4 separate regions of the Homo sapiens genome follow, and regions 1, 2 and 3 are each linked to region 4. Evidence: fine-mapped expression QTL. A gene starts in region 4. Each other region holds a variant in brackets. All regions are shown on one strand. Distances are from middle to middle.

Region 1 (6,187 bases), 25 kb after region 4:
AGCATTAGCCAATTTTTAAAAATGGCTTACTAAAGAGGAAAAAGAGACAGCAAACATAAATACCTCTGAGTATCTTTATAAAACAGATGAAATACTTAAGTGAATATGGACATCTTATTTTCCCCCACTTACTGGTATGTTTGCTTTCCAGTCCAAACAACTGTATATATACTAGGTTTGGATTCATAGCGCTGAAGGCATATTTTTTATGTGAAATTAATTGATAATCCAGGACACTTTGGATCTTTGGATATAGCCCTATCTCCTCAACTTATTCAGGATTGTCTGTAATATGCAACACCAACCAACTTCCAAAAATAAACTCAGTAATTGAATGTCAAAATGCCCACATTTGGTTTTCAGTACTAATGAAATATAATATTTCTGTGCTTTTTTCTTTTCACTCAATCAACATTTTACTTTTTTATTCTTTTGACTGAGTCTCACTCTGTTGCCAGGCTGGAGTGCAGTGGCATGATCTTGGCTCACTGCAACCTCCACCTCCTGGATTTAAGCGACTCTCCTGCCTCAGCCTCCTGAGTACCCAGGACGACAGGCACATGCCACCACACCCAGCTAATTTTTGTACTTTTAGTAGAGACAGGGTTTCACCATGTTGGCCAGGATGGTCTCGATCTCTTGACATTGTGATCTGCCAACCTCGATCTCCCAAAGTACTGGGATTACAGGTGTGAGCCACTGCGCCCGGCCTACTTTTTTATTTTTTAAACTTTTATTATGAAAAAATAAAATAATAAAATTTTTAAATTATGCTTTTTAAAGTTTTATTTTATTTTTTATTGACAAATAATTGTATATATTGATGTGCTGTGTGCATACATGTATACATTTTGGGATGACCAAATACGGCTACTTAGCATATCCATCATCCCAAATATTTATAACTTATTTGTGGTGAGAACATTTAAAATCTTTTCTTTTAGTTATCTTGGAGTATACATTATTATTAAGTATAGAGTTAAATTTTTTAATTAAAAATTTTTAGTGATTATACTTTCAAAACCTGTGAAAAGTTAACAGTGCAGCCCACTTAACTTTGTAAGTGCAGAAAAATAGGCCCTTATTTGCCGCAGTGGATTAAAAAATAGTGTCTCATATCCTTAGTATACAGAGCTTGTTTCCTAAGAAGAGATAGTATATATATGTGTATACACACACACACACACACACACACACACACACACACACACACACATACATACATACGAGAATATCCAAAATAAGACTTTTTAGGAAGGTGGGGGAATTTGTGCTGGAAACCTTGACTAAGAAGAGTGTCAGGAATTTTTGATCGAGGTCAGGTCTCATGCACTGGGCACCCAGCAGCCCTGCAAAGTACTAGTGCTTTGAAAGACAATGCCCGAGTTTGCAACTGTGAAGCAAGACACCTATGATCATGCTTCCCAAGGATGCAACACAACTTTGGTACAGGCAAGAAACAACCAGCAAGGACACTGGCACACAGTTGAAAATTGCGACTTAGACCAGGACAGACCAGTCTGCTGAAGTAATAGCATCAGGCATCCCAAAAGTAAGAGGTACTATTCAGCAAATAACCCTGTTTCTCCTTCTCCCTGGTATGCAGAATAAAAATGACAGCTTTTGGAATAAATATAGTCTGAAGTTTTCAGCCAGTTTGGTAATGCAATGCAGGGACAAGGCTCATATAAGTAGGTCAGATAAAATTTTGAATTGTTGTTAAAAATATACTATAGGTGGAACTATATTTGTGCCTTGACAGTACAGAACAGATATTGTAATAAATATCCATATTGGATATCTCTGTGTCTGTGTATGTATGTATGGACAGTCATATAATTGTGATAATCAAATCTCTTCCTAAAACTGTAGGACAGAGTCTAATTTTTATTTCATGCAGATTGTCCCCTCCCTTCAGTGATGACATCCTTACTCCTCTGAAATGAACCATACCACCCATTCAGTCATTATTATGTAATTGTGTGCCATCGTGTATCACTTTGGATATGTGTCCCATTCCCCAGTTAGATTACACATTCAAAGTCAAGGTTGAGATTTATACATACTTTTCAAGTCCACAGCATCAAACCTAGAAACCCGTATAGGAGATAGAGCAACAGCGTGGCAGACTGGTGAGGCAAGATAATATGGTGGCCATGTGGTCAAATGGTGGCTCCCTCTCTGACTTGAACAAATGATTTAATCTTCCATTTCTGGCCAGGTGCTGTGGCTCACGCCTGTAATCCCAGCATTTTGGGAGGCTGAGGTGGGTAGATCCCTTGAGTCCAGGAGTTCAAGACCAGCCTGAGCAACATGGCAAAACCCTGTCTCTACATAAAATACAATATTAGCCAGGCGTGGTGGCATGTGCCTGTGGTCCCAGTGACTCAGGAGGCTGAGGTGGGAGAATCACTTGAGCCTGGGAAGCGAAAACGTTGAAGTGAGCTGAGATGGTGCCACTATACTGCAGCCTGGATGACAGAGCAAGACCCTGTCTCAAAAACAAATTATATCTTAAATAGAAATAATTATATCTACCTCACATGGGTGTTAAAAGGAATAAACATGAAGTCACTTAATACTTGGCAGGTAGGGCTCTATAAAATTAAACATCTAAGGTAGTGATAAAATAGTTATGTGTTAATGATACTTATAGTCGTCATTTATCAAAAAATTCACAATTGCTGTATCATTCTTGTCAACTTAAAGACAATGTAACTAGAAAAGGGAATGGTTTAGAAAGAGATATCTGTTCTGAAAATTCCCATCCACAAATTCTCTGACTTCTCTCCTTTTCCGACCATCTCTCCAGTCTCAACACCATCATTCCTAACTCTGACCACTGCTTTGGACTCCTTTCTCTTTCTGCCTCTCAGCACAGCCTACCCTAGATATTTTCCATTTGCACCTCCAGATCTATCATCTACCCTTGTATCGTGCTTTAGGCTTCTGGAGGCTAACTGCCATAATGGCATTCACAGGCTTGGGCTTTTGCTGGGTTTGGCAAATGTGAATTCACCTGCAGGAGATGGGACCTTAGGGGATTTAGTCCCCTTTTGCTCCCTTAATGGGCAGTGGTTGGACAATGATGACTTCCCTATCTTACAGTCACAGCTTCTATTACCACACCTTTGGCAACTATAGTTTTTTCCTAGGTTCCTGTGAGTTCTTTCCTTGCCCCTTTAAGCTGCTGCTAGGCCTTGGAGCTTTCAACAACCTGTGTTGGCTTTCTTTAACCCTGACCCCACCTTTGAAAAAGTGATTATGAAGTGCCTTTTGTCCCCTTTGACTGTACCATCTATTTCCTGCTAGACCCTGACTGATACACCTGCCACTCCTCCACACCAATTATATCTGTTTATCACAAGACAGTGTGAAAAATTTGAATTCTGTCCTGTAACTCTCTTCTCTGAATATAGTTTACAGGGTCCTATCTCGCTGAACTTTCCTTTCTCATCATGCTGTGTACCACATCTTTCAAATATTCACAAGCTTGAAGATGTCTGCTTTTGGGTGTGTGCAGATACCCTACCCTCTGCCAGAAACATGTGCCTTTACAACTCACACTAGGGA[C/A]TCAGTATTTGAAAAGTTGCTTAATGAACATTTTATAATTCATATCCTCATAGTTTATTTTTTACTGCTAGATTTTAGGGAATTGTAATGAACTGGTCATTAAAACCTCTTTTCAGCATTTTAATCTATTCTATACTAAGTATTTTTCTGTTAATAATGATACTAGAGCCAAAATCATATTTTCCTTCTTAAAATAGTATCATTTTTAAGCTTTTAACAGTAATACATACCTGAGATGGTACTGATGGCATCTAATCATTATATAATATGAGTTTTGAAGGGACAATTTTGGTAGCTAAATAATCTTGTTCATAATGTTTTTAGCACTAATTTGGAATCATGGAGCTTTTATTATGGAGCTGGCATAAATTTATCTGTAAATCGTGTAAATGTTTAGATGGTCCATACATATATAAAAATAGCTTTGTTATGCTTTAAATATTGCTCCTTCGGCTCATAGAGTATATTCAGAGATATCTACCAGTGGGTTTTTGTGCTGCTGTAGCATCTTCCAAAAAAAAAAAAATTAGCCCAGTAGGGCCTTGGGCTATGAATGTTTTAGTAACCTTCTGTTAATAGAAAATAGTAAGAGGTATTTCTTGGGTCTTATCTCTGACATTTTTTGTCATTCCCTTGTTTCAATATTTATGATATTTTCAAACTTTCTGTCATGGCCAAAACACTAATATTCTTCAGTCGATAATAAAATTTACTTGGCCTTCATCCCCATTATTGTTTGTTTGTTTGGTTGTGATACTTAAAATGAGAAGTCATAAACTTCTTTTGGTTTTCCTAGAATATTTACCTTCAATTTTCTTGAGTAATCTGTAGTTATTTATAAAATATTCCTTTTTAAAAATAAGCTTTCTGTTTTCCATTCAAGTATAAGATATTATTTTCCATTAAAAAATTTAAAACAGAAGGCAGAAGGTAGAAAAAAAACACTTGTCATCTCACAAGCAGGTAATATTTCAGTGCAACATCCTGTCTGTCTTTTTCTCTGTGCATACTTTATATAACATTGAGATAATATGATAGAGCCAAAATCATATTTTCTTCTTAAAATAATATCATTTTTAAGCTTTTAACAGTAATACATGCCTAAGATGGTACTGACGGCATCTAATGATTATATAATATAATTTGAGTTTTGAAGGGACAATTTTGGTAGCTAAATAATCTTATTCATAATGTTTTTATTCACTAATTTGGAATCATGGAGATTTTATTATGGAGCTGGCATTTATTTTTGTACTGCATTTAAATAGTGGATAGTCAAAACAAATTAATAATATGAAGGTGAAGGATCATTACTGACTTAAAACAAAAATATAATCTCTGAGAAGACAAAAAAAATGCTGTAACTTTCCAATAAACTTTATCTTGTATTGCAAAGTATTCTATTATTCAACTTTTACTAAATAAAGTCTGCAAACTTAACAATTTTTGTGTGAAAAGCACATAAAATTTCTGCCCTCAGGAAGCATGCACTAGAGAGGATAAAGAAACATTAAATTGTCACACAAGAATGCACCTTGTATTAGTCCATTCTCACACTGCCATAAAGACATACCAGAGACTGGTTAATTTATAAAGAAAAGAGGTTTAATCAGCTCACAGTTCTGTGGGCTGTACAGGCTTCTGCTTCTGGGGAGGCTTCAGGAAACTTACAATCATGGCGGAAGGTGACGGGAAAGCAAGCACATATTCACATGGCTGGCAGGAGAGAGGGAGGGAGGGAGGGAGCGAACAAGCAAGAGATAGAGTGCGTGCACACATGCGAAGTGGGAGGTGTTACATACTTTCAAACAATAAATCTCCTGAGAACTGTATCAGGAGATAGCACTAGGGGGATGGTGCTAAACCATTAGAAACCACCCCCATGACCGAATCACCTCCCACCAGGCCTCACCTCCAACAATGGGAATCACAATTCGATATGAGATTTGGGTGGGGACACAGAGCCGAACCATATCACACTTCATACAGAATGAGAATGAGAGACAGAATATTTTAAGAGGAGACACTTAAAAATTAAATATATTTGAATTTTACTCACAGTTTTTCCACTTTTAAGCATGATAAGATGGCCTGTAGTCTATCAGTGCTTCCGTTTCCATCTGCGTAATATGGGAAAGAAAATAAAATCTGTATATCAAGGTCATTGTCAGGTCTAAATGACTTAGCATATCTAGCACTATACCCTTTACATTGGAAATTCTTAGTGAATAGTAACTATTATTCATTTCCATTATAGCCCTAATGCCAGGAGAAATATTAGAGAGAATATTTAGGAGACTGTTATTATGGTAATAGTAGACATTAATGAGAGGGTGAATTAGCATAATGGTTAGGCATACAGAAAGGAAAAGTAAATATTGACCAAAATTCCACAGAAGCATATACAGGAATTAATTATATAAGAAATGAAGATGTGAGAGGAATCCAAAATGACCTGAGGTTTTGACCTTTATGAATGGGAGAATACAAAGCTTGTAGCCCATCATAGCAAACTGAGTAAGAATTTGTAGGTATGGAGCCCCAGCATCAGCATTTTTAAAAAGGCCTTCAGATTATTCCAACGCATCACAAGAATTAAGAACTATGTTTAAAA
Region 2 (6,187 bases), 57 kb before region 4:
CCAATAATAAAGAACTTAATGGAAATGTATGTAGTCTGAAAAAAACACACATGTAGAAGGTTAAGATGGTGAAGAGCAGGCTTTGGGATCAGGCAGATTTAGATTTGCGCTCTATATTCTACTTACCTTCTTACATGAGTGATCTCTGGCATTTTACCTAATTTTCCTGAGCTCAACTTCCTCTTTTGTATAATAGGAAAATTGCTGTAACTACTTCTTAGAATTAGTGCTGTAACTACTTCTTAGAATAATGAATATGAAATTCTTAGCATAGATGGTAGAATATAGTTAAATATTAAATAAGTATTATTTATTATTTATTTTTATATGTCACACCAACTTTGCTAAATGGGGGGAACAAATACATCACATAAACTTCATAAAACAATCTATACATCTGAGAACCACATTATAAATGAAATATTAACAAACTGAATCTTATCCAGAGGTACTGAAAAAAAAAAAATAATTGGAAGATTTTTAAAAAGTCATAAGGAGGTGTTTAAGCAGGAAAAGAAACTCTTGAAGAATATGACTGAGTACTTCAAAATTCTAAGCCTTGCTTTATAAAGAAAGAGACCACAATGTACAATCTGTAATTACAAATAGAAGTTATGTGGAAATAGATTTCTGCTCAAAACAAGAAAGAACGTACAGACAGTCCAGTCCCCAACTTAGGATGGCTTGACTTAGGACTTTTCAACTTCATGATGATGCGAAAGTGAAACCGTACTTCAAATTTTGAATTCTGATCTTTTTCCCAAGCTAGTAATATGTGGTACAATACTCTCTTGCAATGCTGGGGAGTGGCAGTAAGCCACAGCTGTCAGTCAGCCCTGTGATCAGGAGGGTAAGCAGCTAGTATTCTATAGTGTATTCTGTTGCCGGCATTTTTTGGATATTTTGTGTTGTGTTTTCACATCCCATCATGTCTACTAAATGCCCAATTTTGACTTAGGATATTTTCAACTTACAATAGGTTTATCAGGACGTAGCTCTGTTGTAAGTTGAGAAGCTTCTATATTAACCGGTAGGTCTGCCTAGGAGAATTTCAGAGGTGGTTTAAGTTTTGTATAGGAGGAGTAATGTTCAAATAGAGGTGGGAGGTCACTTGCTGGGGTTATTAGAGAGATGATGGAAACAACAGATCAGCAGTTGAAAGAGAGGAAACCCTGTAACTGAAGGGTTCGACTTCAGTGGCTAATTTAACTGTGATCTGCATTATTCATTCCTGTATCTTAGTTGTGTCAAAGGAATGAAAACATTACCTCTTGTCCCCTTCATTACTAAATTTGAGTAAATTGTTAAAATATTATACAAATCCTCTACACTAATGTCAAACTTATTGTTCTTCATAATTCTCCACTAACAATACAGAGAGAGATCTATTTAATTGGAGAGATCTAATCTATTTTGGTTATGAATGGGTCTGTCTCTTTTTGGACTTCATAGCAAGAAGAGGGTAACATAATTTTTAAATAGAGAGGGATTTTATATATCATTGTCCATACCAGAATACTTTTGAGATGGACTTAGGCAATAATCAGACAGGCTACAGGACAGCAGGTATAAACTACAACATTCTGAGCAGACTGGAATAAAGGATCACTCTAAATATAACGGACGAAAATCATGAATGTTCAGTTTTTAAAATCTAGGTATTGAGAATGCTTTGTGGGAAAGAGTGTTGAGAGACAGAACCACACGGAAAACAAACCTCACCAATAACTGGCCATAATAGACACTGAACTTTCAGGTGGGATCTGTTTGTCCCTAAATACATCAGCGTCATTTTCGGTCATTTTCTTTTGTTTATTGACTATTGGTCACATTTCAATGCCACAACAAAAGATAACCCTTTAAGCAATTAATAAGGTTTAATGTAAATAGAAATATGCTGAAGTGTCAAGTAAGAATAAAATATGAAATTTTTTTATTTATTCATTTTTCCACATTTCTATTTTTTTCTTATTCCTTTTGAAAGAAGTAACTTAATTGACTTTACAGTTTATTTCTTTCTCTAGCACATAAAAAAAACTTTCAGGAAGGAGAAACTTCCTTCCTTTATAATACATTTCCAATGACTTTGTGAATTACACACCTTTCTATAACACAGTTTTGGGATGACTGAAGCTTTGGAGAAGCTTCATTATCTAAACACATTTGGACTGATGGGAGGCTAGATATATAATTTGCTCAGATGATGGATTGCCAATGCTGAATAATGTGGAAAATTTCAATACAGTAAATCATTCTGAATGTGCAAAACTGGGCAGAGAGCCAGGGGGATACAACAGATTAATGGGTTTTTCTGTCACTGCTGAAGATATGGGTTCTAATCTTGATGCCCGGAGGCGGGAAATTTGAGCTAACGATGGACTTTTTAGACATTGAGAAGCAGATCTCAAAAGAATTCAGAGAAGATATGAGCTTTAATAAAAGAAGAGTAGGCTGTTTGAAAACTTACATTTGAGGGGAAAAAAGATATGAGGAAAAAAAGTAGTAAATATTATGATATCCCTTTATCCAGCCAACATGCAAATTACTAATCTTAGTCCAATTAAAAACATGACAATAATAGAAGAGGCTTTCATATAGTTATGAATTTTTGAGTCATCCTATACTAAGAATGAATTGGGGAACCAAAGTCAAACAGTTAAAAAGGCAATTGGGCAATTCTTCTAATCACAGGTTTTATTTGGTTTTCTAGTATTAAGTCCATAAGTTATCTGTGTTTAAAATCAGAAATAGCTTAAGACATATTTTCTATGCAATTTGAGGATCTTTTACGGTTTAACAGAAGAAAACATTTTCTGTGATTTATCAATAAAAATTTATTATGTTGGGAAATCTAGTGAAATTGCCTATATTTAACCATTTTTTTTTACTTTCAAATATGGCAATTTTATATGGTTAAATCTAATGGATTTGTTCACATAAGGACAAGAGAAAACTCATATCGAGCATTGTGTTATTCACATTAAACGTATTTTCTCATTTCATTTTCACTGCAATACAGTATGGAAATTTGGAAAAAGAACATTCAAATAACTTTCTCAAGTCACATCGGTAAAGAGAGGCATAAGTAATATCAAAGGTCTTTTTGACCCATTAAGTAAGGCCTCCATGTATGATTATGAAGGTTGTTCACTGTGCAAGGGTGATAGCCAAGAAGGGAAGTGAGGGTTTAAATTTAGCCTGTGTTCTACCCAACTAGCGGGGAGCCCTGGGGTCATTGTATTTTCCAAAAAAGAGTGAATGAATATATAACCTGTCCCACGTGCATTTCTTACAGTGTTATATTGACAGTCCTTCACTGAAAGGTGGAGTCTGTTTTTTCTCCCCTTCGAGCTGGGTAGAACTTTACAACTGCCTTCAGCAATAAAATGAAGCAGAAGTGACACTGTATGACATCTGAAGTTACGCAATCAAAGGAAGTATAACTTTACCCTAGTGTCTTCCCTCTGAACAAGTGAATTGGGGGCCCTGAGCCAATTTGTTCTTTATCATTAAATTCATTTTA[C/T]TTACCAAGGTAGATTGCGATTTACTTGTTATATTTCATATTTTATTTTCAGGCGGGAAGAGGTAAAGGTGTTGATGGTGGAAATCAATCTGGAACATGATAAAAAATGATCTTTCTGAGAGATGTTAACATGTGAAAAAAATCCAATTGAAACTCGATGTAATACGAAGTGTTTCTCAGAAAAATAAAATCAAACTGAAGCTGTGGTTTAGTAACTAAAGTTCTTTTTGTCACTAGAAATGACCTATGTTTGTATAAAATATTGATATAACAGTAATACCACTTTCTTAAGTGATAACATTGATAAAAGACATGATGAACTCAAAAATGTGTCTCTGGCAAACACAGTCAATATTCCCCAAAGGGCTCTACATAAATTAAACATGTAGGAAAGCATATCACAAGGTAAAATGTGTAGGGATTTCATCAGTCATCCACTTCTTTGACTTATTTTAAGCCCTAGGTACAGTGACCAATGAATATTTTCATGGCTGTTATAGATCCATGAGAGTGTTTAAGATCCAAAGTTATATTCCGTTTCAGAAAAATAGACTCAATCCCTATTCCTTTATCAAGTTAGGCTATATACTTTTATAATGTATCATATCATTGCGATAGAACAGCAGCTACTCTTTATTTAAAGAAAGATCTGTACATTTTCCATTTATTTTACTCTTTTAAACTTAAAATTATTTAAACATACTTTCTCCTCTCTTTTATTGGCCAACATTAAACCACATTGCTAATCTAATTTTCACTTGAGATGATACAGAGCTCTCCAAACCCATTCTCTGTTTAGATGACATGCAAATCAGATTAATGTGCTTGTGTTACAGACTTAGAGATAAGATTGTTGCTTCTGGGGCTTTAGCAGTAAAAATGCCTCTAACGTTTACTATTTTCTTTTTCCTGCCTTGGCAGTATATCTCTGCAGGAATGTCTTTTGGCAGATTAGTTTTCTAAGGCAAAGATCTACTCAGGGAGGGAGGAAAATACAGCAAAATCATTTTAGGAAATCAGAGAAAATATTTGAAGGTAAGGCTTTAATTATAACATAAGGGACTTAGAATAAACACTCAGGCATACTTGAAGGGATCTACAAGAAATTTTAAGTCTTTTTGTTTTAAATCTTTCAGTAGATGTATCTGTCTATAACATTTGAAACATACTTTTTATTTAAAGCAAGAGTGTGCACAAAATGACTTTTCTGGGTGTGAGTCCAATCGTTGAGTGTTTCCAACCCTGTTTTTTGTCTTTTTTTTTTTTTCTTTTGCCAGCCGAGGCACCAAAGATGATATTTTCTCATAATTACAGCCCAGTTCAAATATGTGTGCTCAGACAAGAAAAAGGCAAGCCACACTTTCAGGCATGTGAACTCCCAGGCCAGTTAGCTAATGGCTTAACTTTAGTGTGTGAATAAATTAGGGGGATGGAAATCTTCCTCTCCCCTGTGGGTCTCAGTTCCTAAGTGAAGCTTCCTGGGTATGATGGCTTTTTAAAGGCTTAAAAAAAATTAGATGTAAGCCAACTACTCCAGCTAGGTGGTCTAATTTTTTGTTTGCTTGTTTGTTTTTGAGATGGAGGCTGGAGTGCAATGGCACAATCTTGGCTCACTGAAACCTCCGCCTCCCAGGTTCAAGCGATTCTCCCACCTCAGCCTCTGGAGTAGCTGGTATTACAGACACCCATCATCCTGCCCAGCTAATTTTTTTTTTTTTTTTCTTTGAGACAGGGTAGCTGGGATTACAGGCACCTATCATTCATTCTGCCCAGCTAATATATATTTTTTTTTTCTGAGACATGTTGGCTAGGCTGGTCTTAAACTCCTGACCTCAGGTGATCTGCCAACCTCGGCCTCTCAAAGTGCTGGGATTACAGGCATGAGCCACCGCCCATGGCCTTTGTCTAATATTTAACCAGAGGAATAGTCCCCCAACCAAAAGCAGGAGAGAAAACTGGCTTTGGACTTGCTAGCAGGTAGTATCTGTCCTCAATGATGTACCAACATAAAGCATTTTTCATAAGTGGTTTTGGATGCCCTTTCATGGAATTCACACCCTCAGATTGAGTTGAGATTAAAATTTAAAGAACAAGTAAGCAAAATAGACGTAAGAATCCATAGCAGTTCTTAAGAAGCAATGTGGTGTGTACTGGGTTAGACACTTTGTATTCATCTTCTTTTTGTCACTAATCCTGGAGGTTATAGATTATTATTTACATATCAGAGATGAGGAAACTGAGAATCAGAGAAGTTGAAAAAGTCTTCATTGATAAACTGGAATTATATCTATGATATGATTCCAAGGACCTCACATTTTTAGCCATGAGAGACTATTATAATACGTTCATTATAACTACTGAAATCACTACCTTCTGGATATTGTTTATGTTGGTTTATTTTACTTGCTTCACTGAGCAGATTACATAGTTTAATACAATTGTTATGATAGATTTGTTTTGATTCATCACAATGGACTGAAAGAATGGACATCTGTTTGCTACTCTATTTTATAATTGCTTTTAAAATAGGACTTTGACATTAAATAAAATGATCACCCAAGCTTCTCAATCTCTTTGTAAGGACAGAAAAATGATTCTGAAGATTAAACATGAGAGTTTATATCTGAGGTCAGTTTTTACATTAAAGCCAGAAATAAAACAGAT
Region 3 (6,187 bases), 170 kb before region 4:
GTTGAATAAGGAAATCTATATTAACCTTAGATTTTTTAAAGCATGCATATAAAGAACAAAGACAGACAGAAGTTTTGAGTTACAAATAAATTCAGGAAAGCTGAAATTCAAAGACCTGATGTTTATAAGGACACAAGGACAAACAAAAGATCTTTCAAGGTTTTTACATTTACAAGAAGAAAACAAAAAAGTGCTTGAGGTTAACAAGCTACGTTTTTTATCCCTTCAAAAGCATAGCATCTCAAGAGTGGAACAAACACTTGACAGAAGTGGTTGAAGCACCATGCAGGTAAAGTGGTTGGGGAGAAACATTCTGCCCTGAATAAATGGCTTTGTGGCCAGGCTTTGGTTGTCTAAGTTCCAAAGTGAGAAAACTTACCAATGAGATTGAAAACTTGATATTGAATTAATCAAAGAGAATAAAGGACCAACAGGAGAGGCACAAGAAAGTTGAGAAGAAAAAGGTAGCTCTCATTTTCGAAAGACGAATATTGATAACTATAGACTGGAACATAACCTTTAGCATTCAAAAGATTCACAACAGGTTACCCTAGCTCCTCAATGGGACATCAGTCTTAGAAATGCTGTTGCATTAAATATATACATCAATTTTTAGAAGCAATCTGGTTTCAGAAATAAGACAGTGTGTGCAGGCAAGAGAAATGTCTTAGGCTAAACACATATGAGTTGACTAGAACAAGACTGGAAACTATGAATAAACATGATCATTATGCTGAAGTCCAGGTGTGTTCATTCAAGCCTTTAATTATATCCTTTTGGACTAGGTTTTAGAAACAGGGTGGGTGAAATGTGTTTTTGTAAATTTAGTGGGTTGTTATCTTACTTGAGCTAAGTGAGAAGTGTGTGTGTTACTCAAGAATTGTGTTCTTAAAGCATTAGAACTTTGACCCAAGTCTTACTATAAATTTTAGCAATGGCTAGAATGATCAGAAGAGACTATTTTCAAATTACAGATAAATAAAATCATAATGATTAGGCATATGGATTTTGAAATTGTTACACTTGGAAGAGAGTTCTGGCTTCGCCATTTATCAGATGTGTAGCTTTAGTCAAGTGATTTAAACTATTCTAAACCTCAACTTCCTCATCTATAAAACTATAATTTGGAAAAGGCCATCTACCCATTGTATGGATGATGTGGGATAACTAACATAAATGCACCTAGCATATAGTATATGCCCATCAGGATGGAGATAGTTACAATGCTGGTGTCCCAAATAAAATTGCCTCTCACAACCAGAGAGCATTTCAATAAAGTTAAATAGCTTACAGAAATGGGTAAATCAAATCAAACAAGATTAAAATGAATCGCAATATGCCGTTTGAGCAAAAGTGTAAGAGAACAAGTAATGTTTTTATACAGGAATAGAATAAAAAAGGCAGATAATTAGAGGCAGATATGTAAGTGTTTGAACCATTTAAGTAACTATGTTCAATAGGAATCTATTAAAAAACATAAATCAATGAAAACATGTAACAAAATACCTAGCATTTTCTTTGACTACATCTGTGAAAATATGGAAAGTAATATAAAGCAGAGACCAGCTTCACTGTGCTCTGTACTGTCTAACAACACTGAAAATCTTACATTATGAATGGAAGGCAGACAAATGGAAAAATATTCAAAGGAGAGTAATCAAAGCGTGGGGAAGCATGCCATCTGAATAATGGCTGGAAGAGAAGTGGTAGTTGTTTCCAGTTTGGGGCTATTATGATAAAACAGCTGCTGTGACATTTTATATAAATCATTTTCATAGACATATGTTTCCATTTATCTAAGGTAAATATCTAGAAGTAGAATTGTCCTATGGTAGGTGTACATTTAACTTCATTAGAAAATGCCAATTTTCCAGAGTGGTTGTACTATTTTACACTACTTTTTAATTGTTTATATATTTATTTCAATCTCATTCCTTGATGGAATTATGTCAACCTTTCCAGATTTCTGTCTTAGAAAAAAATTGGAAGACTTAACCACTCTGCACTCATATGCAGTGACCAAAAACAAGCAGAATTGAATATCCATTACCCTTTTAGATGGTACAGGAACAGTGCAATTTCCCTCACACTTCATTCATCACTCCTGACTCACTCACTCATTTGGTACCAACTGATACGTATTAGCATGAGCTTGCATACCTTCATGTAATGGGAGACTGAAACAGCCCCAGCCATTTAACTTGCTGACAGTAGGCCATTGTTGATGCTTGCATTTGAGTAAGAACATAAACTTCAAGGTGTGTGTTTGTATTTATACTTTGTCATTGTTGTTGCTTTTTGTAAGTGCCATCTTGGAGATATTTGTGTTTTTCCTTTTGACTGCCTCCTCCTTCAGTTGCACCCAGAGGGTCGGAACAGAAGCAGCAGCAGGAA[T/C]GTTGCTAGGCAAAAAGGTTCTGATGACAATGATGGAGATTGCAAATTATGATTAGTGCAAACCCAGGATGTGTCATCAGCTTAGGATTCTGTTATTTACTTAATTTGAGCCTAATGATATGAAACATCGTTGTAATGTTGAAGTTTTCTTATCCTTTTCAAGGTGCTTCAATTCCCTGAGGAAAGAGGCAAGCAGATGGAATATTTCAGGCTGCAGACATAGAAGAACGAGATAGAAATATGCTCTCTGTCCTTGATGTGAAGATTCTGTCACTTTTAATTCTCCATCTTATTTACTTTTCTACTACATAAGAACTGGGGCTTGTTTTAGCAGCATTGATTAAGTTGTCATTGATTTTCAAGATAGGAAATAGAACTTTCAAATTTCCCACATGAATTTTAAATAAGTCAGATATTAACAACAAGATAAAACATTTACCATGGCAATGACAGAATAGTCAAGTATCATTCAAAACCTTTCAAGGCTCACAAAGAGCATATGGATTCTAGATGTCAATACATACATGACTAGGTATTAATTTTATTATTTAATCTAAAGAAATGCTTCAATAAGCTTCTAGCCCCAAAAATAGAGAGTTCATTTATTTTTATACATGTTTGTGTTCACTCGAAATTTGCATAAAGGTATATTTTCTACCAGTCAATAGAAATCAGTCTTATTAACAGTTAAGATTTATTGAGCCCAGTATTCTGCTAAACCTTTAGAGCACTATGTGAATTAATCCTCACAAAAACCTTAGAGCAGAGTTTGCCCAACTTGGAACTATTGACATTTTGGGCTGGATAATTCTTTCAGGGTAGGGATTGTCCTGGGTATTGTAAGATATTAAGCACAATTTCTGGCCTCTACTTATTAGAAACCAGTAACGTCTCTCATCCCAAATGGTGAAAATGAGACAGAGTGCGGTGGCTCACACCTGTAATCCCAGCACTTTGGGAGGCTGAGGCAGGAAGATCACTTGAGCCCAGGAGCTGGAGACCAGCCTGGGCAAAATGACAAAAGCCCATCTCTACAAGAAATATAAGAATTAGCTGGGTGTGATGGTGCACACCTGTAGTCCCAGTTACTTAGGAGGCTGAGGTGGGAGGATCTCTTGAGCCTGGGAGGCAGAGGTTGCAGTGAGCCGAGATTGCACACTTGCATTGCAGACTGGGCAACAGGGCAAGACTCTGTCTCAAAAAAAAAAAATAAATAAATAAAAAAAATTGAAAATGTCTTCAGACATTGCAAATGTGCCCTGGGGGAAAAACTGCACTCTGGCTGACAACCATTGCTTTAAGACAAATATTATTTCTGCCACATTACAGAACTTACCTGGAGACACACAGCCAGCAAGATGAGCATCTGGAGCAGAGAGGTAAGCTTCTTTGGATTGAAAGCCCAGGATCTTTGCATTAATTGATAATGTCTCCAGTTGATTTCAAAGATACATGAATAGAATTGTGTCTAGTTACATGTGAGGGTTTTCTTAGTATTTACTTTAATGTACATGTGAATTGAGCATTTACTATTTGGAAAATACTACACCAGGGCAAAAAGTGATGACAAACTTAACTTACTCATGGCCACTGAAGAACTTAAACCTTGTCATTGGTAAATAGCGAATTCACAACTGAGGTTTTGAATTTCATGTACTGTATTCAAATGCCTTTAAAGATGGAAATATACATTCACATTTCTTAAACATTATGCTTTGGTCTTGTTTTTTAACAATGTTTAAAAAACATCATGTTTTTTAAACATTTCTGTTCATTTACGTTTTGGCATCATTGCACAAATATACAAATATAAAATTATTACCTATGGTAGAATTCTCTTGTGAGAGAAAGTGTATCCATTATAGTACAATAATTGGCAAATCTGGCCCACTACCTGTTTTAGTAAATAATGTTTCATTGGGTCATAGCTATGCTCATTTGTGTATGTGTTGTCTCTGGCTACTTTTATGCTATGATGACAGAGTTCAATAGTTGTGGCAGAGATCATATAGTTCACAGAGCCTGAAACTTTTACTATTTGGCCTTACAGAGGAAGTTTGCTAACCCTGACACAGTATTTCAAGGTGGTCAGATTTTTGTAGCTGTGTAATCAAAGGTATTCTACTTGTCTGTGTTTATTCTTTGTATATTTTTAAATGTATATTCATCTGGAATACATCTGTGAAGCACAAGAAATAACATTTAGTCTTTTCTCCTATTAAATTGCCTTAATAAAGAATAATTGATTAAAATGATCTGAAGCCTCATTCTGTGCTAGTCAATTTGCCAGGAGTTCTACATGCATTACACTACTTAATTGTTACAACAACACTGTGAGGTAGTCAGTCAATTCTCACTTTTTTATGAGGTCACTGAGACTTATGAAGGCTATGGAACTTCCTCAAGGTCATGCAGAATCAGAATGCAGACATGTTTGATTGCAAAGCTCAAGTCTATTTAACCACTATATTACTCTCTGTGCACAGAACAAAATGTCAATAAGAAATTTTACTTGGTTTTACCTATGTTTTAAAGATCTAAGCAGATAATTTTTTCAAAATTTATCCAGATTTTCTGAATCTTCTTATAAAGGAAAAATATCTTATGCCTGCATAAATGAAAGGAGACCAAGATTATTGACTTATTCATTTAGCAAATACATAGTGAGCCCCTATCCTCCACTAGGCATTGTGCTAAATACTAAGGATATAGTAATGATAAGATACATAATCCTTTACCTCATCAGGCTCTGCTCCTAGTGGGTAGACAAAAGAAAAGCAGAAAAAGATGACAACACAACGGGCTGAAATGACCATAATACCGGTATGTGCCAGGTACTGAGAGAGGACGAAGGCTTCACGAGCGTGTTTGAAACCAAGACTTGATAGGTGAATAGCGATCAGCCCTGATGGAGATCTGGACTCTGGCCATGACGTGTTTGGAACTGCCTTGGGATATAGAAATGTTTTTTACAATTCCTGACACTGCAAGCTTGTGTTTTAGTTGGGGGATGCAAGCTAGAATGTGTAAAATATCCATTAATAATACAAGACATATTATGAGTAACTGGTAAATCGTGTGGAACAGCATAAAAGTACAATAGCAATTGAGAGTTGAAGCGAATGAACAGAGTGTGGTGGGTAGTCAGCGGGAAGGAGGGATGGAAGTTGAATGTTTAAAATAAGCAGAATCTGGCTAAATGAGGAAGAGGGGGTGTTGAGGGGACTGAGTATTTTCGGTGACCAACTGAAACAGGGACAGTGTCTACAAGCTCTTGACTCCTAAAGAGACTGGCCTCGATAAAATCAATGTTAAAAATAGCGGGAGAGAAAGGTCTATTGGAAGCTTTGGGCAAAAACGTAGATAGTTTTGAGAAGAGTGGAAGAAATAAGAATACATTTATCTGGGCTGGGTGCGGTGGCTCACGCCTGTAATCTCAGCACTTTGGGGGGCCGATGTTGTTGGATCACTTGAGGTCAGGAGTTAAGAGACCAACCCCACCAACATGGAGAAACCCCATCTCTACTAAAAATACAAAAATTAGCTGGGTATAGTGGCTCGCGCTTGTAGTCCCAGCTACTCGGGAGGCTGAGGCGGGAGAATTGCTTGAACCCAGGAGGTGAAGTTTGCAGTGAGCCGAGATCGTGTCACTTCACTCCAGCCTGGGTGACAGAGCGAGACTCCATCATCCTGATAATAGGTGGTTTGTGAAGAGCACAACATAATCTGAGGTGAATAAGTGAAAAAAGGCCAAATGCATTAAATAAATCATTGCTGTAGACAATTTTTAAAA
Region 4 (6,187 bases):
ACTTAAAATACAACAATTATTTCAGTCCAAAAAATTCTTCCTAAGGGTCAGTGTTGACTGGTGCCTACAGGCAGCATGAGGAAGCTGTTTCTTGCCAGTTCTATGTCACTGAGATCAGCAAGAAGCTTTGACTTCCAGGATCCACACCACAGTCTAAGAAGATATTTAAGTGAAGTAACTGAGCCAGAAAACTAGCTGGAGGTCTCTCATTACTTATTCTTGCTTGTTATTTCAGAATTTTTAGTTGTAGCTATTTCTATTCATGCTTCAATATTAATATCATCATGAAAAAGGACTGGAGATTACAGTCTTTTTTTTACATTGTTGAGACTTTCAAAGGAACTGTTCGTGATTCCAGTGAAAGACTCACGTAATACCCCCAGAAATATAAAAATAAAATTCCTGTTGAAAATCAAGAAGAAACATTTCAGTAGACCAATACCACATCAATGAAAACAAAATCTATTTCAACAAATTATAAATAATTGATGCAGTATGCTTGCAGAGGACAGAGTTTATATCCCCTCAGATAGCAAGGAAATGAAATATTTTGTTTTTAACTTTTGTTACATCATCCAAAGCCTCAAAACTAACTTAACCAAATTCCACCTTAGCTAATACGTTCTGCATCACATGAAAACTCCCCCATGTCAAAAAGAGTATTACAATAACTATATTATCTAATCTGACATTACTAAAGATCCAGATAAGTTTACAACTTCTGATCTAGTTCAAACATAAAGTGACATTGAAAGAAAAGTTTTCCAAACTTTCTCTAGTAGAAAAGTTGAAATTCTAAAGAAATTGAGAGGAGGGACATATTCTTGCCAAAATATATCAGGTAATTGTTGAAAAAATACTTAAAAGTGTTATTAATGAGATGACTACTCCAATAATTTTTAAAAGGTTCTGTCTAAAACAGTTTACAACTCCAAGACCCTGAAAATCATAGTAATAATGAATTTACTCTTATAAGACATTTGTAAAGTTCTAACAGTTGGAAAAACTAGAAAGTTTGGAGAAACAAACATAATACTGAATGTTATAAATCATTAAACAATGCATATTGCTTTAATGTGTATAAATATAAAGTTAGTGCTTTTGTAGTATATCCAAGAAGAAAATCTAGAATATGTCTCTTTTTGGAGAAATGAGATGACTGGTCTGAACGATTTTTAGTAAGTAATTTTAAAACTAATGTTGAAAAGTTTCAAAACAAAGCACATATACTATTGTGTTGAGTATACGCATTCCTTAGGAAGAAAGGAAAACATATAAATCATATGAATAAAGAATATGAATATTAATAAACTTTGAAATAGTTTGTCAGTGACTTTTCTAACTTTATAACTTCAATAAATATTTCATGCAAGATACAATTTCAGTAATTGTATATTCAAATTTATTAACTAAGTAAAAAGAACATTTATTTTTGCACCTCATATGTGGCCACTGGGATTTCATTCATGTTGGATAAATACTATTCTTGATACCTTGTTTCCTTATCAGTCATAAAAGAAAGAGTATAGAGTTTATGTTTACTGAAAATATTCTTCCTTTTACAGACTGTAAAACTTCTCTTTTCTATTTTCATTCCCTTTCATCTTCTGAGTAATTTCGCATATTGACATATATTTCACATCAACATTTTCTTGCTTTTTTTTGGTGTACCCTAGGAGAGACTCTCAAATTAATTTTTTACATTCATGCCAGTTACTAACTTTCAAAAACTCCTAAAAAAAAGTCACTGTAGTAATAATTCATTCCTCCTTTAATTTTCACACCCTCAGTCAAATGAATATTTTACATACATTCCCCAAGGACTTAAACCTTTTGTAAGTGAAATTGGAAATGAAATAAGTCATGCACAAGAACAAGAATCACAAGTCTTCCAATGAATTATGTATTTTTAAATGCAAATGGTTCTATTTTCACAATACTTCACTGTTAAACATGTGCTCTGCTAGGAGCTGCTTTAATCTTATGCTACATATTTTATTGTATGTCAAAGTTAAAGCCATTAGCTATCCAAGGGTCAATCTAATGATGCCCAATTATCAGCAATTAAATAGTTCAGGTGTAGGAATTCAAATAGGAGCAGCTCTTATATAAAATACGGTTAATAGAAAGAACACCTCAGACACACATGGATAGAAAAATATATATATTAGATCGGGTAAATTTAAGCAAAAATGTCAAGGAAAGAAGACTTTATTATTAAATCTTCCTAGCTTTTAGCTTTGATCACAGACAACAATGTAATTTTACTTCCAAGTCATTGGGACCCTGAATGGGACAGCAGAATCAATCCAAGTTACAAGTGACTAATACTATGAGATGCTCTTATCAAAACAGAGCAGAGGAAAATTGTACAAGCCTCTTGATAATATTACTCCTATATCTCTATAGACATTCAACACATTATTAATATGTTTCTGTGATTACAGTTTTCCCAGCTATATCAACAACTCCGAGTGACCTCACCTGAAAGCTAATTTTATTTTGTAAAAACTGACAAGTGAAGATGGAGACCAGTTATAAAAACAAAGGTAATTTTGTAATTTTTATGTAAAGCAAACTCGAGACTCAATGATATCATACAGCATGTGAATTATCACCATCCTTGCATTTTCTCTTAGTCTTACAAATATTTCACATGTTCATGCTACCTATTGATGATATATGTATGTACACAAGATAACACCTTCTCAGTAAAGGCTAGAACAGCACATCTTTCTGACTGAGTAGATTACACCACATGGTAATGATGTGATCAAACTCCACAAGTTATGTGCCTCATCATTAGTTTCCCCAAACTATGAGGTTTAAAAAAAAAAAAAAAGCCACTAAACATATACACAGCACAGCACTGTAGCAAGAGAATAATTTTGGCTTATCCAAATGATAGTGAATAATTCAGTACATTTAGAAAAAAAAAATATATATATATATTATGAAATGCATCCCAGATCCCAGTTTAAGTTCAAGTTCCCAACTGTGAACTCAGAGCTCATGGAAATACAATTATGTAGATTCCTCTTAGCAAAGATTTAGTAGTGGTTCCTTCATTTAACAGCAGTTTTTTCTTAGTGAAATTATTTACTTGAAGAGAGGCTAATATGAAGGGAAAAAGGCAGTTCAACATAGACCAGGCACAATATAAAAAAAGTATTCATAGTTTAAAGTGTGTTAAAGTGTAATGATGTCACAAATAGACAAATCTTAACTGCGTCTTACCTGTAGTAGCAGAGTGTCTTGATACTGTTGAGTGTCGAAAAGATGCAAGTCTCTAAATTAGAAAACAAGGGGCTGTTTGCGCTCCCAGTTTCAGCACAGCCAGTGTTCTATGCGTAAGTAATAAATTGCCTCGTCAAAGTCGTCCCAGCCACGGTGTTCATAGGCAATAGTTAGAATCACTGCCCGAAGTCTTGCTTGATGCTGCTCCCACAGCCTCTGCCTTTGCACAGAGACCTAATGTAGGAGTGAGCCGGAGAACATCCTCTTCGCCCCCCTCTCTCCCCCTCCCTTTTGCGTGGTCTTTCTTCCTCTGTAGCTCACTCTCTCTCACGAATGGAGAGTTATCCTTTGGTTCATTCGGCAGTCAAAGAGGACAGGCTGGCAGGCAACAGTGCAGCTGCCCCCATGCTGAGGCACATGAATGTGTTGTGAATAAAGACAAAGCCCTGAACCAGTGCAGCACGTTACTCCCTGGAAAAGCGCTGCAATGATACTCTGCACTGCAACTCCTCAGGCAGGCAGGCAGGCAGGCAGGCAGGCAGAGCGGTGGACTGAATTTCCCTCGCTTTCCCTCCTAGGAACGTACATTATAAAGTTTGGCTCAGGACCTTGCTTCTCCTCTAAGGGACCACATTTTCTGTGGGTAAAAAATGTTTTATTAAATGTCTGGACACCCTGAACAAAACTATTTTAGATAGTTTTCTACTCTGCTAAACTTGGAGAACCTACCTCATTCCCAAGCTGTCGCCAAAGTAACTGAATTTTCTAACTTTGGAAGATAAAGATCAGGTATGTTAGGCCCCAGAAAAATGTTTTCATGGTAGGGGAAGATGAATTTCTCTAGTCTCAGTATTCCTGAGGGACTGAGTAGGGAGGGTTGGGGAGAGGTGAGCAAACAAACAAAAAGCATCCATATCTCACAGGTGCCAAAAATAGAAACTGAGATAAACTAAAGTGAAACTGATGAACGAGTCTGAAAGAAGGTAAGTGCAAAGAATTGAACAGAGTGAATTAATGGTACTCACTGGTTTCCTATAGCTATCATTCAGTTTTGATAACAAAAAATCATCCTACTTATATACATCATGTTTTGCTGTGGCTTTTGCAAGTATTAATAGACAAATAAACGTAGGCTAATATATACCACATATTTAAGAAAGATTTAGCAGATAATGGCCTACAGGTATTTGCATAAAGAGAGTCAGAAGTTGTTTTCATGCTAACAAAACTACAGGTGGTTACTAAACTATGGATACAGAACTTTGAGATGCACACTCTCAAATACTGGTCCTAATCAATGTATACTGTAACGATGAGACTTTTAAAGCACAATCATATAATGTAGGCAACAGTATTTGGTAAAATAATTAAGTATAAGTTAGGATGAGACTTTTCCATGAATGCCAAAACACCTGAAGTAAATAGTTGCTAGACTAAAATATAACTTTATTTCTATCCCTGATGAAAATGAAGTCTGCAGCTAAGTGTTCCAGGGCTAGATATGAGCTCCATGATATCAGGAACTAGGCTCCTTGTTGCTCCACCATTAGCAACACACTCCAAGATAGTATCTCAAGCTTTAGCCACTAAATTGGTATTCAAACTTCAGGAGCTGAGAAGAATGAGGACAATATGTTCCCTATTTAAGGACATACCTTGGAAGTTGAACATGACATGTTTTTGACTAGAAATTAACCATATGGCCAGAGCTTACTGCAAATGAGACTGGAAGACTGGAAAATAGAGTGTCTATGTGAAATGGCCATGTATATGGCTAAAAACCTGAAGAGCCTTTTACTTAAAAAGAAGAAAACAAGGGAATATGGGGGAAATAATAGTGTCTGCCATAGTAAGATTGATGGATATCGTAAGTGATATCACAGCATCCGTTTCACCTTTATTCCATTGCGAAGTACCGTGTAATTTAGGGAAATGATTTCATGTTGGGCAGCAGACCCTGTTGAGTCTAAGCCTATCATGGTAACAGCATCATACTTGGAAGTAATTGGTTAATAAACCCAGACCTGAACCAATTCGGGCATGATGTTCACTTGCTGATAGTCACTGGCTCAAGAACAGCATAGTTTCTTACACTGGCCCAGTGAAACGGAATGGAGGAAAAATTGTTCAGTGATGAATCAATGAGTTAGGGTCCAGTTTTAAGATGAATATGACAAATTGGAGACAAAGAAAGAAACTAGATATTTGAAGAAATCAATGTAGGTTTGGATTAAACAACTTTAGAGCCAACAGGAACTCAACTTCTAGTTATGCGCACCAATGTGTTACATCACTTTTTAAGTCACTTTGATATGCTTTTCTGTTAGTAACCAAAACATTCTTAATGTACATTAAAAAACACTGTTCTTTAGCATTTAGTATATAATTCCTTGTCCACAGTCCTAATATCACGTGTGAAACTCCACGGTTTGGCGATACGTATTTTTCTAAATTAAGAATAGGAAATATTAAGGGCATATTAAATTTCTACATATTCCAGATTTTCAAACTTTCAATTTATTTATTTAAAATGGTTCTAACAATTTAATTTTCATTGACATTCCATTGGGATTATTAGAAAGCCAATTTGTTGTTGAGCCAGGGACATATCACAAGCTCAACAGATTTAAATAGCTTCTTGTTTTTGTTACACTTATTACCTCTCAGGATCTAACTAGAATAATAAGCTATGCTGTATAGCTTTCTCTCACTTCAGTCTGTGATAATAAGTGTTGTATTTTAATAGCTAACATTTGCCCATGGGTGTGTTTACCCTATGCCCTATCCTCCTTTAAGTTTTTATAATGTATGAACTCATGTGATCTTCACAACAGCTTTATGAGGAGTATATTATTATTATAACCTCAATTCACTTATGAATTGAGAAATGGATTCACACATTGTCTTCGTCTATTTTGTCTTGCTATAAAAGAACATCTGAGACTGGGTA

Direction of the effects. Alleles are on the strand shown, and positions count from the first base shown. SD is a standard deviation of normalised expression in the study named. Not every link is listed here.
In carriers of allele T in region 2, the expression in caudate of the gene that starts at base 3,729 in region 4 tends to be lower than with C alone (moderate effect, 0.50 SD a copy in GTEx).
In carriers of allele C in region 3, the expression in testis of the gene that starts at base 3,729 in region 4 tends to be higher than with T alone (moderate effect, 0.74 SD a copy in GTEx).

The links.
Region 1: its variant is fine-mapped to the expression of LINC03000 in prefrontal cortex (ROSMAP, PIP 0.95).
Region 2: its variant is fine-mapped to the expression of LINC03000 in caudate (GTEx, PIP above 0.99).
Region 3: its variant is fine-mapped to the expression of LINC03000 in testis (GTEx, PIP above 0.99).

Annotation. Positions count from the first base shown.
Region 1 is chr5:164,269,337-164,275,523 of GRCh38, reverse strand. No RefSeq gene overlaps it. Among named protein-coding and RNA genes, the nearest start is that of LINC03000, 24 kb to the left of the region's middle. The variant C/A (reference allele first, on the strand shown) is at 3,574.
Region 2 is chr5:164,351,566-164,357,752 of GRCh38, reverse strand. It overlaps LINC03000 (long intergenic non-protein coding RNA 3000), which reads right to left. Exons shown (of 5, transcript XR_001742489.2): 2 at 3,529-3,612. Among named protein-coding and RNA genes, the nearest start is that of LINC03000, 58 kb to the right of the region's middle. The variant C/T (reference allele first, on the strand shown) is at 3,524.
Region 3 is chr5:164,466,442-164,472,628 of GRCh38, reverse strand. The region is part of intron 2 of LINC03000 (long intergenic non-protein coding RNA 3000); the gene reads right to left. LINC02143 (long intergenic non-protein coding RNA 2143) reads left to right here and starts at 5,227. Exons shown (of 4, transcript NR_105064.1): 1 at 5,227-5,282. It overlaps LOC102546299 (a long non-coding RNA gene), which reads right to left and starts at 2,350. Exons shown (of 4, transcript NR_105065.1): 1 at 2,161-2,350. The variant T/C (reference allele first, on the strand shown) is at 2,395.
Region 4 is chr5:164,294,247-164,300,433 of GRCh38, reverse strand. It overlaps LINC03000 (long intergenic non-protein coding RNA 3000), which reads right to left and starts at 3,729. Exons shown (of 5, transcript XR_001742489.2): 1 at 3,238-3,729.